2 separate regions of the Homo sapiens genome follow, and region 2 is linked to region 1. Evidence: fine-mapped expression QTL. Tissue or cell type: monocytes. Region 1 holds a variant in brackets; the other region holds the start of a gene. All regions are shown on one strand. Distances are between the middles of the regions.

Region 1 (2,686 bases):
TCCCTTATTTGGAAAGAGGACTAACTTTCTAGCTCAATGCAGACACCCCTTCCCCTTCCTCTCTGCATTCTTTTGCATGCCCACCTTATCTAAAAAAATCAAATGTTTAGCCAACCAGGATTAGTTCAGATTGTACGACCCGACCCTGGCCAATGGGGAAAGGGTACAGGGGCAGGACTTGTGTCAGGAATAAAGGCTCTTGTGCCCCTTTGTTCAGGTGTGCTCTCATGGTGACTGGACAAGAACGCACCCCTCTGTGCAGAACTAAAATTGCTTTGCTAGGAATCCTTTGTTCGAGTGTTCAATTTCCTTATGATTTTGAGCGTTATTCCTAACAGGAAGAAAAGGGATATTCAGGCCTTTCACAGACCTGACAACAGAGCTGCACTTCAATGTGACAGGTATTGACCATGTGTGACTCCTGGGAGCCTGGAATGTGGCTGGTCTGAGCTGCAATTTGCAAGAAAGGTAAAATGCAGAGTTAGTTTCAAAGATTTAGTTCCATAAATATAAAAATATACAACATATAGATAAAAATATCTATATATAATATGGATAAAAATACATAGCATAATGCAATATATAGATACATAATTATGTTATATATAAATATATATCTCATTCATAATTATACATTGCTCACATATTAAAATAATATTTTGGATATATTGCTTTAATTAAATTGTTACAACAGACGGATGCAGTGTCTCACGCTTGTAATCTCAACACTTTGGGAGGCCGAGGTGGGCGTATCACGAGGTCAGGAGATCGAGCCATCCTGGCTAACACGGTGAAACGTGTCTCTACGAAAAATACAAAAAATTAGCCAGGCATGGTGGCAGGCGCCTGTAGTCCCAGCTACTTAGGGGACTGAAGCAGGAGAATGGCGTGAACTCGGGAGGCGGAGCTTTCAGTCAGCCGAGATCGCGTCACTGCACTCCAGCCTGGTCAACAGAGCGACTCCGTCTCAAAAAACAAAAACAAAGACAAAAAATCTCATGCTGCCTTCTCAAAGCCAGGAAGGTTATAAAACCTGAAATTTCAAAATCATTATTATTATATTCTTTTCATTTGTGAATAGCCATACAGTATAATATTTATAAATGCATATAACCTTATACACAAGATTACATGCAAACACCCTCTAGGGTGGGCCTGGCTCAGCTCAGGGACGAAGCCCTTTCTGAGCGGGCGGCAGCTTAGGCAGTCACTCTTTCTTCATTCAGCCTAGCGTTTGGTCACATCTTCTGTCAATCACGATGTGAGGAGGCGGGGATTTAAGCGTTATCCAATCAGCAACACTGGGCTGGAAACCCTCCAATCAGCCACGCAGCTGGAGCGGGCAAGACAGCTTCCGGAATATGGGGGCCTTTGTCTCCGGCTGCAGCTGGAG[T/C]TCTACGTCTAGTCTTCAGAGGCCCAGTCTCCGTGACTTTGTGACCTGCAGGTATTGGGAGATCCACAGCTAAGATGCCAGGACCCCCTGGAAGCCTAGAAATGGTGAGAGTGCCGGGTCCGACATCCTGAGAAAAGGGAAGGAGTTGATTGGAACTGGTGGCAAGTGGCTGTGGTGGGACTCGGGTCTCCCGTCAGTCAGCTCCACAGTCTGCGCCCCGAGTTCTCCTTGGCCAACTCAGCCTCAGTCCTCTTCAGCCATAGCATGGTGGCTGCGCTGACAGCAGGACCCTGGGCTGAAGGTGTGGGTTGCCCCTCCACACCTGTGGGTGTTTCTCGTTAGGTGGAAGGAGAGACTTGGAAAAGAGAAAGACACAGAGACAAAGTATAGAGAAAGAAATAAGGGGACCCAGGGAACCAGCGTTCAGCATATGGAGGATTCCACCAGCCTCTGAGTTCCCTTAGTAGTTATTGATCATTCATGGGTGTTTCTCCAAGAGGGGGATGTGTCAGGGTCACAAGACAATAGTGGGGAGAGGGTCAGCAGACAAACACATGAACAAAGGTCTTTGCATCATAGACAAGGTAAAGAATCAAGTGCTGTGCTTTTAGATGTGCATACACATAAACATCTCAATGCTTTACAAAGCAGTATTGCTGCCCACATGTCCCACCTCCAGCCCTAAGGTGGTTTTTTCCTATCTCAGTCGATGGAACGTACAATCAGGTTTTATACCGAGACATTCCATTGCCCAGGGACAGGGAGGAGACAGATGCCTTCCTCTTGTCTCAACTGCAAGAGGCATGCCTTCCTCTTATACTAATCCTCCTCAGCACAGACCCTTCATGGGTGTCGGGCTGGGGGGCGGTCAGGTCTTTCCCTTCCCACGAGGCCATATTTCAGACTATCACATGGGGAGAAACCTTGGACAATACCTGGCTTTCCTAGGCAGAGGTCCCTGCGGCCTTCCGCAGTTTTTGTGTCCCTGAGTACTTGAGATTAGGGAGTGGTGATGACTCTTAAGGAGCGTGCTGCCTTCAAGCATCTGTTTAACAAAGCACATCTTGCACAACCCTTAATCCATTTAACCCTGAGTTTGACACAGCACATGTTCCAGAGAGCACAGGGTTGGGGGTAAGATTATAGATTAACAGCATCTCAAGGCAGAAGAATTTGTCTTAGTACAAAACAAAATGGAGTCTCCTATGTCTGTCTACTTTCTACACAGACACAGTAACAATCTGATCTCTCTTGCTTTTCCCCACACTGGGCGTCCTGTCTGCACAGTGACCC
Region 2 (2,686 bases), 86 kb after region 1:
GTGGTGGTACGTGACTGTAGTACCAGCTACTGGGAGAACTAAGACGGAGGATCCCCTGAGCCCAAGGAGGTCCAGGCTGCAGTGAGCTGTGATCACACACCTGCACTTCAGCCTGGGTGACTAAGAAGACCTCATTTAAAAAAACATACACACACACACACACACACACACACGTATGAAAGAAGAAATTTAAAACAGCAACTTCAGTGTGCAGGAAGGTGCTTAAGAGAGAAAACAAAACAAAACAAAACAATAGTAACTCAATGTACCGTGGAAACAAACTCAAAGTGGGGCTAGAAAAAAAGAAAAAAAAACCCAGAAAGATCCCGAGCCTCAGCTACTCTGGAGGCAGAAACAGGAGGATGGGGCCGGGCATGGTGGCTCACACCTGTAATCCCAGTGCTTTGGGAGGCCAAGGTGGACGAATCACCTGAGGTCGGGAGTTCCAGACCAGCCTGACCAACATGGAGACCCCATCTCTACTACAAATACAAAATTAGCTGGGTGTGGTGGCGCACGCCTGTAATCCCAGCTACTCAGGAGGCTGAGGCGGGAGAATCGCTTGAACTCGGGAGGTGGAGGTTGCAGTAAGCCGAGATTGCCCCATTGCACCCCAGCCTGGGCAACAAGAGCGAAAACTCAAAGAAAGAAAAACAGACAGAAAGAGAAAGAGAAGAGAAGAGAAGAGAAGAGAAGAGAAGAGAAGAGAAGAGAAGAGAAGAGAAGAGAAGAGAAGAGAAGAGAGAAAAGAAAAGAAAAAAGAAAAGGGAGGATGACCTGGGTGAGTCCGGGCAGGTGGAGGGCGCGTGAGCCGTAATCGCACCCTCTGCTGGACCTAAGCGGTACTGCCGCGGGCGAGAGCTATCTAGTCCGTCTTAAACATCTCAAGCTGGAGGCCAAACCCTAACCTTGGGGCTGACATCTGGTCGACCCAGCGGCTGGACAGAGAAGCCAGCCGGTGGCGAGGGCAGAGGCCCACCGGGTCCACACTACGCGCCAAGTGTGGCCGAGTGTGGCGCGCGGGGCCTGAGCCCGTCCGTCTGGAGTATAACTCCGCCAACCTTCCTTCCCAGCGCTCTCCCACACTGTCTGCTGGTCCACTAAGACGGGGAAGAGCTCAAGGGGGGGCGACCGGCCCCTACTCCCCGCCGACCCCTCCTCCCCGCTGCTGAGTGGGAGAGGCCCAGGACCTGGACCGCCACTTCCAGACCACACAGCCACCCCTGAAACGGGGGCTGCCGGGCCACACCCTCTGACGCCCGCGCCTCAGCCATCCCACCACGCTCCCACAGCGGCGTCCCAGCCAGGGCGACGAGCCACCCGCAGGGTGGGAAGAGGAGGAAACCAGAGGGGGTGGACACCAAGCAAGGGAGCCCCACGAACCTGCGGCACCCTCAGAGCAGCATGTGGCCCCTTCGGCGCTCGGAAAGCCCACGGGCGGACCCTTCCAGGCTCTCGGAAGATGGCACAGGACGGTCCCTGATTCTCCATGGGGACTTGGGAAAAGAAATCGGCCAGAGCCTCAAACGGCCAGGACACACATGGGCCCGCAACCGGGCCTGGGGGGTGTCCCCGGCCCCCTGCATCATGCCTGGTGGGTTCCGAGGGTCGGGCCTCCGCAGCTGCGGTGAGCTGGGGACCAGCCCGGGCAGCCCCACACTAAGCTCATGCCGGGAGCACGGTAACAGCCTCCCCTCCACAGCCCTACACGCCAGAGCTATGACTCACAAGGGACGCGCCAGAGCTCTGGCACCATCGGGACTGTTCTGCTGAAGTCTGCAGGACTCCCGAGCTCTGCTCAGCTCACAGCGGGGGCTGTCCCTCCCTCGGCAGCTGCCACTGGAGCTCCAGAGGACAAGAGAACTCTAGAAAGGTGGCCGCCCCTGTGGGCCACAAGCCGTGCCGTCAGCCCAAGCGGCCTCTGGAGGAGGCCTGTACTGCTAGCCGGCCGCTAGGAGGCGCCAAACAACCACCCACGCAATAATCAGCCAGGAAAGAATGAAAAAATACATATATATGCATATACTGATCAAAGAACAATCATACCCAGTCAGGGCGACGATTTTCTAGGCAACAAGGAAGAAGCCAACTTTGAGGTAGGGACAGTAGAGAAGACACAGTTGACCCAGTCTGTGCACAGGCTTCCTTTTCTGTGAGACCTTGGTTTAGGGGACATAACTATATTTCTTTGTAACACAATTACTTATTATAAACGTTATGTTTGTTTATTTACTTATTTGCTTTTTGATTGGAGTCTTTTTTTTTTTTTTTTGAGACGGAGTCTTGCTTTGTCACCCAGGCTAGAGTGCAGTGGGGCAATCTTGGCTCACTGCCATCTCCGCCTCCCGGGTTCAAGCGATTCTAGTACCTCAACCTCCTGAGGAACTGGTATTACAGGCACGCACCACCTCGCCCGGCTAATTTTTTATTGTTAGTAGACACGGGGTTTCGCCATGTTGGCCAGGCTGGTCTCAAACTCCTGACCTCAGGTGATCCAGCCGCCTCAGTCTCCCAAAGTGTTGGGATTACAGGCGTGAGCCACCACGCCCAGCCGATTTTTTTTTATTTCTTATGTGTATGGTCCTGTGATAGACCAGGGGACTTGTAACCTCAGAGTCCATGAGGCCAGAAGTTAACGTCCTAAATGTCTATTTAGAATGAACTTAAATGAACCAAACTCTCTGCC

Which allele goes with the higher level. Alleles are on the strand shown, and positions count from the first base shown. SD is a standard deviation of normalised expression in the study named.
With allele C in place of T in region 1, the expression in monocytes of the gene that starts at base 1,200 in region 2 is lower (large effect, 0.91 SD a copy in BLUEPRINT).

What was found. PIP is the estimated chance that this variant, and not a neighbour inherited with it, causes the effect.
Region 2: it holds the start of LINC00664, and the variant in region 1 is fine-mapped to the expression of LINC00664 in monocytes (BLUEPRINT, PIP 0.95).

The regions. Positions count from the first base shown.
Region 1 is chr19:21,567,915-21,570,600 of GRCh38, reverse strand. It overlaps LOC124904670 (a long non-coding RNA gene), which reads left to right and starts at 1,345. Exons shown (of 2, transcript XR_007067182.1): 1 at 1,345-2,686. LOC101929007 (a long non-coding RNA gene) reads left to right here. Exons shown (of 4, transcript XR_007067176.1): 4 at 1-699. The variant T/C (reference allele first, on the strand shown) is at 1,394.
Region 2 is chr19:21,482,229-21,484,914 of GRCh38, reverse strand. It overlaps LINC00664 (long intergenic non-protein coding RNA 664), which reads right to left and starts at 1,200. Exons shown (of 11, transcript NR_037194.1): 1 at 909-1,200.